Regions from separate parts of the Homo sapiens genome. Here region 1 is linked to region 2. A link means that fine-mapping ties the variant in region 2 to the expression of a gene that starts in the linked region. Tissue or cell type: prefrontal cortex. Region 2 holds a variant in brackets; the other region holds the start of a gene. All regions are shown on one strand. Distances are between the middles of the regions.

The links.
Region 1: it holds the start of ARHGEF16, and the variant in region 2 is fine-mapped to the expression of ARHGEF16 in prefrontal cortex (BrainSeq, PIP 0.95).

What each region holds. Positions count from the first base shown.
Region 1 is chr1:3,453,291-3,455,790 of GRCh38, forward strand. ARHGEF16 (Rho guanine nucleotide exchange factor 16) reads left to right here and starts at 1,375. Exons shown (of 15, transcript NM_014448.4): 1 at 1,375-1,521. RefSeq lists an enhancer at 1-209.
Region 2 is chr1:3,477,735-3,480,732 of GRCh38, forward strand. ARHGEF16 (Rho guanine nucleotide exchange factor 16) reads left to right here. Exons shown (of 15, transcript NM_014448.4): 11 at 141-292; 12 at 690-878; 13 at 1,783-1,856; 14 at 2,078-2,179; 15 at 2,714-2,998. The coding sequence ends at 2,853. Among named protein-coding and RNA genes, the nearest start is that of ARHGEF16, 25 kb to the left of the region's middle. The variant ACC/A (reference allele first, on the strand shown) is at 1,675.

The DNA of each region.
Region 1 (2,500 bases), 25 kb before region 2:
TGGACTCAGGAGGGCAGCAGCCACCTGCCTTTCCCAAGAGCTGCCTGGAAGTGGAACCTCCCCACAGGCGGCTCCAGGTGGAGGCTGCAGCCCACAGGGGTCAACTCTTAGCTCCTCCCTCATCCACCCTCCCTCCCAGGGGATGGATGGCCCACGGGACCCATCCCTGAGGCCAGCCTGTGCCCTGCCCAGATGGCACCTGACACCCAGGCAGCCCCAGCCACAGGGCAGACATTGGGGGACTAGTGGGTGGGGCGACCAGAGCAGGAGGGGCAGGGCAGGCCGCCCCTCTACCTATGACACCTGAGAAAATGCCAAGTGACAGCCCCAGAGCCTGTGGTGTCTCCTCAACCCGCAACGGGATCTCACGGCCGCCCAGGCCAGGGAGGCAGGTCCTGGGAGGAGGGTGGTCAGTGCCTCTGGCTGGCACACCGGTGCCCGGCCCACGACCCCAAGGCCTGGGGTCAGTGAGGGGACGCTGGTAGAAGCTGACCCAAAGCCCAGTGTGGATGTTCACATGGAGGCCTTTGGCAACAGGCCTTTCCTGAAAAGGGGATGATGGAGGCAGGTCAGAAGTGGGTCTGAGCCCTGGGACCTCAGGTCACATTCCTGAATGGCCAGGCCCAAGCTTGGGAGGCTTGGCTCAGCCCCCAGCCCCTCCCACAGCACCAGGTGGCCTGATTCCTGAACCCCCAGCTGGGGGGCTGCTGCAGCCTCTGCCCGGGGCCCTCCCTCACTTTCACACGGGTTCCCAGCAGGCGGAGCAAGGAAAGGCCAGGCTCGGAGTCCAGGCTCAGCCTTGTGCACGAGGGCGAGCGCCTTCCTTTCCAGGACTCGGTCCTTCTCTGTGAAATGGGGATGACCGCGACTCAACCACACCAAAAAGGTGGCCAGAGTGCTTTGCGCCCTCTTGGCTGTCTTTGGCCGCCTGGCTTCCAAGAATCCAGAGGGCCGGGCCTTTCTACAGCAAACATCGGTCCCCGCAGGGCTGGTCTCCTTCCCCGAAGGCTTCCTGGAGGAGGCAGTGGAGCGGGGCCTGGAAGGACAGTGACGCAGGAGGGAGCCGAGCCGCTCTGGCCCCACGCCTGGCAGGCGACTCCCGGGCCGGCCTCGAGGGGGCGTGGGCGCGGGGAGGGAAGGCGCAGGCACCGGGCGGCGGCGGCTCGGCGGGAATCGAGAGGCGCGATCCAGTCCGGGCGATCACGTGGGCTCCAGCCGGCCCAGGTGGGGCTGTGACCTGTGACGCAGGCGGCGCCGCCACAGGTGCCCGGGACGCGCCCCGCCCCCTCCCCGGCCCTCCCCGCCCGGGCCCTCGGACCCGGAGCAGCCCCGCCCGCCCAGCGCCCACCTGCGGGGCCGCAGCCGCCGCCCTCCAGCCAGACCGCGCAGGAAGCGGAGGAGGCGCCCCGGGCCGGACCGCGCTGCCGCAGGAGCGAAGCGGCTGCAGGACAGGACAGGACCCGGCGCTGGAAGCTGCACCGCCAGCGCGCCGCCCCTCCGTCCCTCCGCCCCGCGGCGCAGGTGAGCCTGGGGGACAGGTGAGCCGGGGGACAGGTGAGTCGGGGCTCGGGGGAGCCGGGTGGGGGGATTAGCCCGGGGGAGGCGCCGGGAACCCGGGGCGCTTCTCCTCCCCCTCGCTTTTCCCGCAAGCCCCGCCCCGGCAGCCGCAACAACTTCGCGACCCTCCTGGGGCTCCGCCGGGGCGGGAGAGGCGGGGCTCGCGGGCTGAGCCGGATGCGACTTTGGACCCGCCCCCCCACACACACCAGGCAGCCCCCTGCTTGCCCCCGCCCGCTCGCTCGCTGCCCTCTCTTGACCCCGAGTGGCCGCTTCCTCTTCCTAAAGGAAAACTTCCATGCAACCGGAACCTGGGTTCAGACTTGAGCGCCGAGGACTCTGGAAGCCCCAGGGAGTTTGAAAGAGCATGGGGTGGGGGGCGGAACAGAACGACCCTCCCGGGAGCTCTTTGGGGAATCTGACACCCAAACCTGCTTTGGCCCCAAAATTTCAGAAAAGCCCCGAGAAGGAAGAACCCCACACCCAAGACAAACCCAAACCATACGCCCCTCCCCCACCCTTGACCTTGGTGGGCGGTGGCAGGGAGGGACCTGCTTTGTCTCCCCTGAGAAGGGAGATGGGGAGGGGGAGGGGTGCGTCCCACCTACCAGGGAGCCGTGGCCGCTTGTCTTGGCCGCTCAGCCTCTTTCTGCGTCTGTGAAATGGGAACAGTATCCCTTTTGAGATTTGAGCAGGTGGGGGGACTGAGGGAGTGGCAGCGATGGCAGGTCTTGGTGACCTCTGCTTCTGACCTGAATCAAGGCCTGAATCTTCTCTGTGTCCTTGAGGGGAACAGTCTGTGCACCACCTAACATGGGGGCCTAGGGGGTGCGTGTGGGCCTGGCTGGGGGTCCAGCAAGAGGGTCCAGGTGCTGTGCCTGGCTGCAGGTCCTGACCCCTCCGTGGCATAGTTCCCAGGTGTGTGGGTTTCAGGCTCACATCC
Region 2 (2,998 bases):
CAGCTGGTCACCCAGTCCAGAGGCAGGAGTCAGTCCCACCTGGTGCTATGCGTCCTTGACCCCCTGGGGACCTGCTCACCCCGGCTCTGTCCCCCCCAGTCCCTCGCACTGATCTCCGCCTCCCGGCTCTGTCCCCCCAGTCCCTCCCACTGATCTCTGCCTCCCGGTGGCTGCTGAAGCGCGGAGAGCTGTTCTTAGTGGAAGAAACCGGACTTTTTCGAAAAATTGCCAGCCGGCCAACGTGCTACCTTTTCCTGTTCAACGATGTCCTGGTTGTGACCAAGAAGAAGAGGTGGCCTTAGGGCAGGAGGGTGTGGGGAGCCCCACTCCATGGACACTGGACCGCTGGCCCTGGGGCAGGAGGGTACAGGGAGTTGGCCCTGAGCCCCTCTGACCTCAGAGCCGAGGCGCGGCTTCCACTCGGCACATGCTCTACGTGACACTCGGGGGCAGGTGGCGCTCGCTGTGCAGCCTCTGACCTCCTCTGCAGACCTGGGTCTGCCGGTGATAGCCACGAGGAGGACTCGAAAGCCATGGCCTCTGTTCTGTGGGACGCGGGAACTCTTGGAGCCCGTCCGTGGCTGCCTCCCCACCACTGCAGGGGAGCCGGGTGGGACCTGGACGGGAGCCCAGCAGCACTGGGTAGGAGCTGGGTGGGACCGTCCCACCGACTGCCCGTGTCTCCACAGCGAGGAGAGCTACATGGTCCAGGACTACGCCCAGATGAACCACATCCAGGTGGAGAAGATAGAGCCGTCTGAGCTCCCTCTGCCCGGGGGCGGCAACCGTAGCTCCTCCGTGCCCCACCCCTTCCAGGTGACCCTGCTTCGCAACAGCGAGGGCCGCCAGGAGCAGCTCCTGCTCTCCTCGGACTCCGCGTAAGTGGGCTCCCGGGAGGGCTGTTCCCAGGCCACAGGCACATTAGCTCCATGGGGACCGGGTTGTCCCCCTGCCTTGCTCGCTGTTGCATGGCTGGCTCTGAACGCCCACCGTGCACCTGGCCCTGCTGTAGGTGCTGAGGTAGAGCCAGAAACAACAGAAATGGCCTTGTCCTCATGGAGTTTATGTTCCCGGGAGGGGACGCACCAACAGTTGGGCCACCAGGAGTGGGAACAAGGGAGGAAACGAGGTGGGGGGTGGGGTGCGGGGGGTGCCGTGAGGAAAGCTTAGCCCATGTGAGCAGAGGGAGGTGGGGCCGGAGTGTGGGGTTGCTCAGCAGAGGCCCCGAGGCAGGAGAGCCCTGAGGCCCCGAGGGCACAGCTGCAGGTGGACAGCAGTGATGCTGGGGTGCAGCGACCCTGGCCGGTAGGGGCCAGTTCAGACAGCAGGGTGGTCCTGGCACTCAGAATGGGAGGGGGCACTGATGGAGTCTCTGCGGGCCCCCCGTGGAAGCCAGGCACACAGGTGCGCCAGTCTCCATATTCCCTCTCAGCTCGTCTTGACTGAGGACAGCTCTGGGCCGTTTCCAGATGAGGATGCTGAGGCTGAGTCTGTCACAGCAAACGGAGGGGGCAGGGAGCTGGGGCCCAGTGCCAGGAAACGGGGTGGCCTCAGGTCCAGCAGGCTGGGGTCTGGGTGTGTGGCCACTACCCAACTCTGTGACCTGGGGCTGGGGTGACTTGGGGGTTAGCCTGCCTGGCACAGTCTGCCCAGCCACTCCTGCCCACCCCCACC[ACC/A]CCCATCTCCTTGCCACGGCCCCCATGGGTGGCTGTCAGAAGTCAAGGAACATCAGACGGGCAGGATCGGTCTCCAGGCCTGGCTCATGCTGTCTCTGGTCCCCAGGAGTGACCGGGCACGGTGGATCGTGGCGCTCACACACAGTGAGAGACAGTGGCAGGGCCTCTCCAGCAAAGGAGGTGAGTGCGGGCTGGGGCCTGCAGGGCTGGCCCTCTGCCGTGGCTGGCACTTTGGCCCCCACTGTAGCCCAAGTGAGCCTGGCACCTGGCCTTGTGCTGGGGCCTGGCAGTCGGGGGATGGGGTGCCCCGGCCCCGGGGGATGTGTCTGCTGGAGGCCGTTGGGGAGTGGAGCCTGGCCCATGCCTCCCGACAGCCCTGTGATGGCCACTGCCCTATGCAGACCTGCCCCAGGTGGAGATCACCAAGGCCTTCTTCGCGAAGCAAGCAGACGAGGTCACACTGCAGCAGGCGGACGTGGTCCTGGTTCTGCAGCAGGAGGATGGTGAGTGCAGGGGCGTTGGGCACAGATGGGTGGGAACGGACAGGCGGGCGTGAGTCAGCGTCCAGCCTGGCCAGGTCCAGAGCATGCCGGGCTGCAGGCTGACCATGTGCTCACCCTCTCTCGAGGGCTTCCTCAAAGGGAGCACTCCCACATCCCCAAACCTCAGAATCAAAAGCAGGTTCATGGTCACTGTGTCCCACGTGGGGAGGAGGAGGTGTCTCTGCCCTCCCAGGGGATCCCCGCTCAGCCAGGCCCAGCACGAGCCTGCAGAGGGCAGGCAGGGCTCCTCCTCATGCCGGGCAGCGCTGTGTGGGGTGTGCTCAGCCCAGCACCCTTCTCAGTGGCGAGCACCTGAGCAGGGGCTGGGTGCCCGGTGACCATGAGCAAGGCCTCAGCAGCTGTCTGCTCTGAGCAGGAGCAGGTGGTCAGTTCTAGGAGAAGCCTGGCCCTGGTGTGCTCAGGCATAGCAGCTCAGAGGGGCCGGGGGACCCACGGCCTTCCCCTCACCTCCCTCCCACCCCTATCCGGGTTCAGGGTGGCTCTATGGCGAGAGGCTCCGGGACGGAGAGACGGGATGGTTCCCCGAGGACTTTGCCCGCTTCATCACCAGCCGTGTGGCCGTGGAGGGCAATGTCCGCAGGATGGAGCGTCTGCGGGTGGAGACGGACGTGTAGCCCTGGCGAGGCCAGCCGGCGGCAGCACAGCCTGTCTCCAATCAGCAAGTGGTCGTGCCTGGCTCTAGAGAGCGTGGGGAGCTGGTCTCAAGGACCCAGCATGGTTCCCTGGGGCTTCCCAAGAGCCTGTGGCTGTGGTGCCGGG